Homo sapiens: one gene and its partners. The protein of the gene in region 3 interacts with the protein of the main gene of each other region in a pairwise test. Each region holds a gene or a part of one and is shown on either strand. Other genes may lie near its edges.

The links.
Region 1: the proteins of GTF2H2C (region 3) and NR5A2 interact in binary tests that used the Homo sapiens proteins (3 or more experiments, as listed by UniProt).
Region 2: the proteins of GTF2H2C (region 3) and DZIP3 interact in binary tests that used the Homo sapiens proteins (3 or more experiments, as listed by UniProt).

What each region holds. Positions count from the first base shown.
Region 1 is NC_000001.11:200,044,647-200,048,403, forward strand, and holds part of NR5A2 (nuclear receptor subfamily 5 group A member 2), read left to right. Parts: intron 1-796; coding exon 797-938; intron 939-3,525; coding exon 3,526-3,757. UniProt on the Homo sapiens protein: Orphan nuclear receptor that binds DNA as a monomer to the 5'-TCAAGGCCA-3' sequence and controls expression of target genes: regulates key biological processes, such as early embryonic development, cholesterol and bile acid synthesis pathways, as well as liver and pancreas morphogenesis.
Region 2 is NC_000003.12:108,592,677-108,596,433, reverse strand, and holds part of DZIP3 (E3 ubiquitin-protein ligase DZIP3), read right to left. Parts: intron 1-3,757. UniProt on the Homo sapiens protein: E3 Ubiquitin ligase proteins mediate ubiquitination and subsequent proteasomal degradation of target proteins.
Region 3 is NC_000005.10:69,563,116-69,566,872, reverse strand, and holds part of GTF2H2C (general transcription factor IIH subunit 2-like protein), read right to left. Parts: intron 1,774-3,757; 5' UTR 1,741-1,773; coding exon 1,685-1,740; intron 743-1,684; coding exon 665-742; intron 285-664; coding exon 248-284; intron 1-247. UniProt on the Homo sapiens protein: Component of the core-TFIIH basal transcription factor involved in nucleotide excision repair (NER) of DNA and, when complexed to CAK, in RNA transcription by RNA polymerase II.

The DNA of each region.
Region 1 (3,757 bases), on a different chromosome or scaffold from region 3:
ACCACCACCAGGAAAATCCCTCCATTCTCTATAACAAAGTAAGAATGTTTCTCTTTGTGGCAAGTGGGTTAAATATGAATACTATCCTGGTAAATCTCATATTATAAAGCTACACATTTTATTTTTGATTAATTCTTTTATATAAAATATAAGGAAAGCTCATACCCTGTGTGCTACAATTCAGCTATCTGTGATACATGCTTTTTCCTTCCATTAGTTTTGCCTTTTTAAGAACAGTTCCCATACTTGAATGTATTCCAGTGGAATTATGAGCATTTTCCCATTTTACTCTTTAAATCCTTTTGCTTTTAACTATCCAGTGTTGACATTTGTTAAAAAAAAAAAAAAATCTGAGGTGTTTTGCTATTCAGTTTTTTCCACTGGCATTTTGCAATGGTTTATCACTGAAATTATATCAGACTACTTAAAAACAATGCCAGGACTTCATGAGTACCTCTATCAGGAACATGTGGGATAATAGGAAAATAGATTAAAAAAAAATTTATCTATATAGAGTGTATTTTTTCTGACTGTTGGGATAAAATGGTGGGTAGCCAAATCTCCCCAGGATTTGACGTAATTCTTCAAGAATAAAACTGATGCCAGAAAAATCTCCACCATGGCCTGGCACAGTTTGGGAAGGTTGATGTTGCTGAAATGTAAAATAAACCACAGAACCACATAAGGGCTCAAATAGTGCAATGAGAGGATTTACTGGTGATTTTCTTAAAATGAAACAATGGAAAAGACGGGTGTTAGATTTATAATACGTCTCACTATTTTCTCTGTCTTATAGGGATTTTTTAAGCGAACAGTCCAAAATAATAAAAGGTACACATGTATAGAAAACCAGAACTGCCAAATTGACAAAACACAGAGAAAGCGTTGTCCTTACTGTCGTTTTCAAAAATGTCTAAGTGTTGGAATGAAGCTAGAAGGTAAGATTCTTCTAAAGACTACTGCCTATTAAAACTCTCCAAGGACATGAACTGTAAAACAACATTGTACTTATAGCATGGTAACATTATTTTCCCAGCATTTTAACACTACCGACAATACTGTAAGATCTTTCTATGTTTCATCTGCAGAATAGTCTGAGTCTCATTTAATCATGGTGAAATCTACTAGGAAAAAAATTTAAAATATTAGTTGTCTTTCCCCTGCCCACCCCCTTTTTTTTAGTCTGGGGAGCAGATGCATTAGACACAAAAAAGGGAAAAAGATCAGGTTATGAAAATAAGACTAAAGCAATCCAACTGAAAACAAGAATAATTTGTAAAACTATTAAAAGTAAAATATTCTTTGAGTTTTTAAATCAAGATACCCTTGGAAAAGTTTGATTTCAATTCTTTTTAAAAGAGGTGTGCTTGTCACAAGTGTTAACTACTAATTTCATGATTCTTAAGAGTTAAAGCCTTTAATGGTGAAAAGGAGTTTCTCATGTAGGATATTATCTTTGATAGTGTAGAAATGTATTTTTTTAAAAGATAATGACTGAGGCTGCAAAATAAAAAATTGAGAATCAGGAAACATGAAAAATAACGAACTATTAAATCATTAGCAAAGGTCTGAAAAGAACAAGAAAGTGGCTCCTGAAAAGCCACACTTGAACTTTGTTGAAAGAGCAGACCCTATACTACAATGTACAGATTGGCAGGCAGTAAAGTTAATATGTGACTGCTGTAAATAATTTGTAGTTCATGGACTACTATGGTATGTTGCTGCTTTCTAGCCTCTGACCTGCTTGCTTTCCATGGATTAAATATACTGCAAATAAAGCAATAACAGGGATACATATCACCGATGGTGCTAGATACAAGAGTGCATTTTATTTGATCAATGAGGCACAGGCTATTTTTATTTGGAACTTTTCTGTTATATGGAACTCATACTTGATAGAAATACTAAAAAAAAAAATCATATAAATCTGCTGAATAGCTAACACGCTTCTTCCGAACAGAGGTAGCCACTTTGGTTATTATGAGGACTGTTAATGTCAGTATCATTTTTAAGAGATCATGAAAGGAAATAATTGATGCTTATTAATTTTCTTATTACCAATCACTATTATTTCCCAAATAGCAAAATATTGTGGTAGATGCTTACTACATACAGTAAGAGACTCAGAAGATAAGTAAATGTTGTGATTTTGCATGATGTCATTTAATTCCTTTTCAACAAAAATAATAAGGCTGCATTTCTTTACCTTAAATAATTAAACTTTCTTTTTTTTAAGTTAAGCTTTCACAATTGTAAATCACTTGTGGTACATGCTCATGCTTCCTTAGGAGTGATATGAAACAACTGAATATTCAATAAATTATCATCCAGATGAAAAACTCTTTATAATCTTGTGCAATATTCTGTATACTTAGAATTTACAATAAATTTTTAATGTGATACTAATCCAAGATAAAAAGCTCAAAAACTTAACCTCCAGCAAGTTCAATATGTCACAAGCTATCAGAGGTCTCTAGTTTCTGTCTAATTGCCATTGGCCACTATGGACTTAGAGGGAACTGCTAACTAACTTATTAGTCATGGCCGCAGACTCCACACACCACTGTCGCAGAAGACTCTCTTGACAGCTTCTGAAATGAATTTGTTTTAATTATGTCCAATTCTACTTAAATTAAAAGCAGTAACTGGTGGTCATCTGATGTGGGCTCATCAAGTCCAGGTGAACATGATTTTCCAAGAACATGTCCCCACCCCTTTTGTTATTGCAACAAGGTGGCCAAAATGGCTTTCAGGGAGGAAGGTATCTTGTGGGAAAGTATTCACAATTTAATCCAAAATTGGGTAACTCAGTTCCACACCCCTGCAAAAGAAAACCCCAAAGCAGTTTGGGTTTCCATAAGGAACTGGCATAATAAAAGCATATACTCTTAGTAGAACGACTGATACTCTTTCTTAGCAATGTGAAATATTTCTTTTCTTTTTTTTGAGACAGGGGTTTCACTCTTGTTGCCCAGGCTGGAGTGCAGTGGTGTGATCTTGGCTCACTGCAACCTCCACTTCCCGGGTTCAAGCGATTCTCCTGTCTCAGCCTCCTGAATAGCTGGGATTACAGGCACCCACCACTACGCCTGGCTAATTTTTTGTATCTTTAGTAGAGATGGGGTTTCATCATGTTGGCCAGGCTGGTCTTGAACTCCTGACCTCAGGTGATCCACCCGCCTTGGCCTCCCAAAGTGCAGGGATTACAGGTGTGAGCCACCGCACCACGCCTATGTGAAATATTTCTATGTCTAACAAAAATTATGAACTCTCCTCCATCCACAAAAGGGTTAATATGTCCCTATGTGGCCAAAGTATTTTTTTGATGACGACACACACTTGGAGGAAGGAATTCATAAATAAAGAGGACATGGTTTTTTGGGAAATCTTTGTGGGCTATTGTAACGAAAACAACCACACACATACCACTTCTTGTCGATTTACATTTCTAAATATCTGAAGAATGCTAATAATTTGCACCTTATTTATACCTTTCCTTCCTTCCCCCCACCCCACCCCCAACAGCTGTAAGGGCCGACCGAATGCGTGGAGGAAGGAATAAGTTTGGGCCAATGTACAAGAGAGACAGGGCCCTGAAGCAACAGAAAAAAGCCCTCATCCGAGCCAATGGACTTAAGCTAGAAGCCATGTCTCAGGTGATCCAAGCTATGCCCTCTGACCTGACCATTTCCTCTGCAATTCAAAACATCCACTCTGCCTCCAAAGGCCTACCTCTGAACCATGCTGCCTTGCCTCC
Region 2 (3,757 bases), on a different chromosome or scaffold from region 3:
TTTTCTATCCATACTTGGTCCTATATCATTTAGTCTCAAGGCTTTCAATTTCTATCTCCAACCCTGACCGCTCCTTTAACTACCAGTAATTTGATAGCCTACTCAATCTCTCCTGGATGTCTAACATCACAACATAACCTAAATAGAAATCCAGGTATCTGCCCCTCTCCACGAAAAGGCTGAAGCACAGCCACCCAGTCAAATCAGGCCTGGAGCAGACAAACTGCAGTCAACCACAAATCTGTGGGCAAGAAATAAACGCTCATGGTCTCAACCACTGTGTTTTGAGGTGATTTGTTATTTGGCATACATCAATTAGTACTCCATCCTATCTAAAATTGTAACACCTTATCCTGACTTTGATACTTCCTATTCCTCCTCCCTTTTTTCACTCCCTAATACTTACCGCTATCATTCATGTAATTTTACTTATATGCCTTATTGTCTATATCCTCCATTATAAGAAAACAACTTGGGCAGAAATTTTTGTCTATTTGATTCATTGCTGTATTCCCAGAACCTAGAAATGGACCTAGCATCAAGTGTTCATTAAATATACAGGAGATGAATGAATGAACAATTAGCCCTGTGTTCACACCCCGGTATAATTCCCATATTACAAAACTTAGTATTCTGCAAACTCTGCAGTTCTGTCAAAGCTATAATTCAAGTCTTCATTCAGTCTAATTCATCTACTATTACTTAAACCCTGGTTACTAGAGATTATATATTCAGGATAGAAGACAATATGTTCTTTCTAGATTTTTCCAGAAGAAATAAAGGAGCTAGACAGCCCTAAATTTGAGTTACAAGATGCCGAGCAAGTGTTATTTACTTCCATCAGGTGTATTTCTGAAACTATAAATTACGGAAAATATCTATGCAAAATCTAAAGTACAGACAAGTAATAAAACTTTACAGGTGGGTGTGGTGGCTCATGTCTGTAATCCCAGCACTTTGGAAGGCTGAGGCAGGATTGCTTGAGGCCAGCAGATTGAGTCCAGCCTAGGCAACATAGCAAGACCCTGTCTCTAAAAAAAATTTAAAAATTAGGCAGGTGTGGTGGTGCATGCCTGTAGTCCCAGCTACTCAGAGGCTAAAGTGGGAGGATTACTTGAGCCCAGGAGCTAGAGGCTGCAATAAGCTATTAATCATGCCACTGCACTCCAGTCTGGGCAACCAAGTGAGATGCTGTCTCCCCTACAAAACAACAACAACAACAACAACAAAATCACAAAGAGAAATTTTATGCTAATCTTTGAAGAATGAAGGAAGTGGATACTTAATATTTTACCCTAAAAAATACCATGTGTTTCCACAGTATTCTATTTCTCTTAACAGTACTTATTCTGGTTTGTCTATTTCACCAACAAAATCTAATCTCTTTGAAAAAGAACTGGCATTCAATAAACATTTGATGAATAAATGACTATTAGCATTTAAAAATGTATTTACCTGACTGGTTAAAACTATTATACATTTTTTAAGTGAAATGGAGATGTTTACTTTAGCTACTGTCTTTTTAAAAGTTTTTGGTCTATTAGCCTTTACTTTCTGCTGTGAAGAAAAAAACACAAAACAAAACCAAAATATAAAATACATGGCATAAAATAAATGATTTTTATTTAAAAATATACTAAGGAATGCAGCCATAAAAAAGAACGAGATCATGTCCTTTTCAGGAACATGCGTGGATCTGAAGGCCATTATCCTTAGCAAATTAATGCAAGAAAATCAAATACCGCATATTCTTACTCATAAATGGGAGCAAAACGGAAAGAACACATAGACACATACAGGGGAACAACACACATTGGGCACTATCGGAGGGCAGAGGGTGGGAGGAGGAAGAGGATTAGGAAAAATAACTAACAGGTACTAGGCTTAAAACCTGGGTGATGAAGTCATCTGTACAACAAACTCCCATGACACAAGTTTACCTATGTAACAAACCTGCACATGTACCCCAAACTTGAAAGTTATATATATATGGGGGGGGAGCAGGGAGGGAGGGGGGAGGGGAGGGGGGAGAGAGAGAGAGAGAGATGTCCTAAGACTTCAACTTTTAAAAACCTAGGTGTACTAAGACTTCAACTTTTAAAAACCTAGAAAAACAACAAAGTAAATAAAAGATGAATGTATACGGATGAAATTAATAAAGACAACAGTGGTGATTCTGAAATCAAAGAAAAATGAGAATTAATAAAATGAAAGTTGGTTCTTGAAAAGCTGAATAAAATGGACAAACCCTTGGAAAGCCCAACTAAGAAAAAAATATAGATAACATTAGAATGAAAATGGAAATTTAAAACTACTAAGAGATTAAGAGAATTACTGGAATGCTGAATGCAACTTTTTATCGGTAAATTTTTAATATAGAGAAGCAATTATTATGCTAAAAAGCTCTATATCTACAATTAAGGAAAGGCAGAATAAATGATCAGATCCGTAACTATACTAGAAATTCAAGCTCAGGCATGTTAGCTCATGCCTATAATCCCAGGACTTTAGGAAGCTGAGGCGAGCGGATCACTCGAGACCAGGAGTTCGAGACCAGCGTGCGCAACATGGTGAAACCCCATCTCTACAAAAAATAGAAAAATTATCCTGGCATAGCGGGGCATGCCTGTGTTCCCAGGGAGGATGAGGTGGGAAGATAAGCCCGGGGAGGTCAAGGCTGCAATGAGCCGTGATCATGCCACTGCACTCCAGCCTGGGCAACAGAGTGAAACCATATTAAAAAAAAAAAAAAAAAAAGAAAGAAATTCAAATATTTGCTAAATTTCTACCATCTACCACTAAATAAGCTATCAAGCTTAATGATTTTACAAGACAGCTGTGTACAGCCTACAAGGATCAGATAATTTCTATGATTCTTATTATCCCATAGCATAAAAAAAGATGAAACACTTCCAATTTCTTTTTCAATGGTAACATATAATTCAAATTTGATGTGAGAATAAAGAAAAATATTACTGAAAATGCTCACTTATGAACAGGTATATAATAAAATCCTGAATAAAATACCAGCAAATCAAAACCTGAAGCAAAGAAAAACATAGGATTGTTACTACTGTCTACGTGACCTTGGGCAAATTACTTCCCCTTCCTATCTTAGTTTTTTCATCTCTAGAATGGAAATCATAATAGTTCCTACAGCATGGGGTTGTTATAAAGATTAGATAGGTAAGTAGAAAGTCCTTAGGACAGTGCTTGGCACATGGCAAATGCTCAATAAGTGTAAACTATTATTATCCCAAGAACAAAAAGGCAACATAATCCACTGTGTTATAATTTTAAAGTGAAAAATAAAATATATAAATGTGAAAACTGGATAATTTTTGGCAGACATTTTTTAGAATGAAACAGATATAAAAGCCAATCTCTTAAACATGATGAATATCAAAAGCCAATAGCACAAATTATACTGTGTTAAAACACTGTTCATTCTCATTAAATTATGTAAAAAAGCTGTTCAAAGTTAACATGATTTTCCATATTTTGGAGCTTACACTAATGCAATAATGTAAGACAACAAATACTGGAAGGGGTGAGGTAATTATTTGCAGATGATATATAGGCAGAAAGTCTAAGTAAACCAATCTCTATTAGAATAAACGTAATGATAAATAAACATAATAAGAATGGAACAAGACAGTATGACAAACTATATAAAATCTCACTGAACATAAAATATAACCTGAATACTTTTTTTTTTTTTTTTTTTTGAGACAGGGTCTCCCTCCTGTTGCCCACA
Region 3 (3,757 bases):
GGCTCAAGCAATCCTCCTGCCTTGGCCTCCCAAAGTGCTGGGATTATAGGCATGAGCCACTGTGCCCAGCCTCAAGTGCCATTTTGACTAGTAAAAATGGCATTTAATAATTACATATTCTATGCACGTATTTTTAACATATTCTTTTAAAAACTTTGTTGTTTTGCTATTGTTTTTTCTAGCAAGACAGAATGTTTCTCTAACCTAAACTAGTTCTGTACTAGTAAAAGAAAAAATAATGACATACCATTCCAAGTCGAACTTGTCCATGGTGCTCAAATACTCTGTTAAAATTATACAAACATTTTAATGTAATTCCATATACTATCCCCCCCCACAAAAAAAAATACAACTTTCCAATTGACCTCCTTTGTTTTTCTTTTTTTCTAATTCTGATTAAGAATGTCATAACGTGCATTTTTAGTGGAGTAAATAATTAACTTATGGAATACAATACACATAATTATAGGTATTGTAGACAGTCTCTAAAGACCATTTCCTGCTGGGGCAAGGGTAGGTGGCTAGTTCTTTCCCCATAGTCAGAAGGCAATAGGTCAGTTTCCCTGAAACACAGCTAAAATGAAGTACTGAGGAGTATTTATAGATAGAAAGGCTTAAAATGAATATATTTTACCTTTTTAAGATACGTAGGAAGGTTACATACCTTTTTCTCTTTGCCTTGAATAGAATGTCTTCTATTGTAGCTTTAAGTGATCCAGATTCATCTTCTTTAAGAATCTCCCTATAAGTCATAATTATTTGTTTGAAAAGACAAGCTAAAATGATTACTAGCCCAAATGAAATGAAAATATATGTCCACACAAAGATTTGCATGTAAGTGTTCATGGCTGCATTTTCCTAACAGTCAAAAACTGTAAAGAACCTAAATATCCACAGACTAGTGAATGGATAAACAATAATGTGGCATAACCATAGATGGGAATACTATTCAGCAATAAAAAAGGAATGAAGTATTAATACACACTGCAACATGGATGAGTCTTAAAAATAAGTGAAAGCCAGCCACAACAGACCAACTATTATAGTCATGCATCGCTTACTGACAGGGATACATTCTGAGAAATGCATTGTTAGGCAATTTCATTATTGTGTGAATATCACAGGGTATACTTACACAAACCTAGATGGTATAGCCTATCCCACGCCTAGGTTACAAACCTGTACAGCACGTTACTATACTGAATATCTTAAGACAACTGTAACACAATGTTCAGTATTTGTATATCTAAACATACATAGAAAAGGTAGAGTAAAAATACAGTATTATAATATTATGGGACCATTGTCATATATGCAGTCTGTCTTTGACCAAAACATCATTATGTGGCACATGATTGTATATGATCACATTTTTGTGAAATGTCCAGAAAAGGTTAAAATTTGGAGACAAAAAGTAGACTAATGATTGCCCACAGGTGGAATTAAATTAAGATTTAAATTAATTGTAAATGAATGTGAAGGATCTTACTGGAGTGGTTACAATATTCTAAAACTGGTTTATGATAATGGCTGCACAGCTCAGTAAATTATTAATAAAACATCACTGAATTGTACATTGGAAATGGGTGAATTTTAACATATGTAAAATATACTTTAATAAAGTTGTAAAGAAAAAAAAAGACATTGTCTAAAAGAAAAGACAGGGCAATAAAGCTCTCCTTACCATGTTCTTTCATAGCCTCCTTCCCATCGCTTAGTTCTTTCAGGTTCTTCATCCATTTTTTTCAAAACTGTATTTTATTATTCAATAATCTGTAAAAACCATTAGAATGTAAGTTATCTAAAGATGTTTGTTACAAAATTCATCCAATTAAATTTGAAAATTAGACACATATATAAAGTAAAAAAAATGGAATGCCAGGTCATCTTATTCTTTGTATTTTACTCAATAATTGTCTTAAAAATCTTCATAGAACTCCATTTCTCATTTCCAAGAAATAATATGAACTTATACACAAACTTGGTACCAATAAAAATAAGTGTCTTTTTACAATTTGTAAAAGAACAAAAATGCTTTATAGATGTGTCACATGACAAACTGTAGACTTGTGAGGAGTCAGTATGGGCGTAGTTGAACTATTATAGCTGAGTGACATGTGATTCATTGTACTATCTCTCTGTGTATGTCTCAATTTTCTCATAATCAAAAGTTTTTAAATCACATTTATTATTTATAAATGGGTAAATGCTATAGCTCATAATTCAAAAAAAAAGGACACAAAATTAAACATAGTTCTTTGAGACATCTCCAAACTGCTTTCCATAGTGGCTGAACTAATTTACATTCCTACCAACAGTGGATAAGCATTCCCTTTTCTTCACAACCTTGCCAACATCTGTTATTTTTTGACTTTTTAATAATATCCATTCTAACTGGTGGTGAGATGGGTTTGTGGTTTTGATTTACATTGTGGTTTTGGTTTGCATTTCTCTAATGATCAGTGATGTTGAACATTTTTTCATACATTTATTGGACACATGTATGTCGATCCAACAATCCCAATACTGGGTATAAACCCAAAGGAAAATAAAACCATTCTACCAAAAGTACAAGAGCACTCATATTAATCACAGCACTATCCAAAATAGCAAAGACATCACATCAACTTAGATGCTCATAAATGGTGGACTGGATAAAGAAAATGTGGTACGTAATATATCATGGAATACTAGCAGCCAAAAAAACAACGAAAAAAAAACACAATGAAATCCTGTCTTTTGCAGCAACATGGATACAGCTGGAGGCCATTATCCTCATCGAATTAACACGAACAGAGGCCCAACGCAATGGCTCACGCCTGTAATCCTAGCACTTGGGAGGCCAAGGCAAGTGGATCACCTGAGGTCAGGAGTTTGAAACCAGCCTGGCCAACATGGTGAAACCCTGTCTCTACTAAAAATAGAAAAAAATTAGCCAGATGTGGTGGCGAGCACCTGTAATCCCATCTACTCAGGAGGCTGAGGCAGGAGAATTGCTTGAACCCGGAAGGCAGAGAGGTTGCAGTGAGCCGAGATCGTGCCACTGCACTCTGGCCTAAAAAAAACAGCAACAGAAAACCAAAGACGGCATGTTCTCATTTACGAGTGGAAACTAAACACTGAGTACACGTGGACATAACGATGAGAACAACAGACATTGGAGACTATTAGACAGGGAAGGATGGGAAAGAGTGAGGGTTGAAAAACTGCCTATCAGGTACTATGTTTACTACCAGGGTGACGGGATCATTTGTATACCAAACCTCAACAACAAGCAATTTATCCATGTAACCAACATGCACACGTACTCTGTGAAAATAAAAGTTGAAAACAAAACAAAACAAACAAACACAGGCCAGGGCCAGGTGCAGTGGCTCCATCCCTGTAATCCCTGCACTTTTGAGAGGACAAGGTGCGGATCACCTGAGGTCAGGAGTTCGAGACCAGTCAGGCCAACATGGCAACACCCGTCTCTACTAAAAATACATAAATTAGTTGGGCATGGTGGCAGGTGCCTGTAATCCCAGCTACTAGGGAGGCTGAGGCAGGAGAATTCCTTGAACCTGGAGGGCAGAAGCTGCAATGAGCCAAGGTCACACCACTTCACTCCAGCCTGGGTGACAGAGCAAGACTCCGTCTCAAAAAAAAAAAAAAAAAAAAAAAACCAGGCCGGGTATGATGGCTGACATCTGTAATTCTAGCACTTTGGGAGACTAAAGCAGGTGATCACTTGAGGTCAGGAGTTTGAAAATTAGCT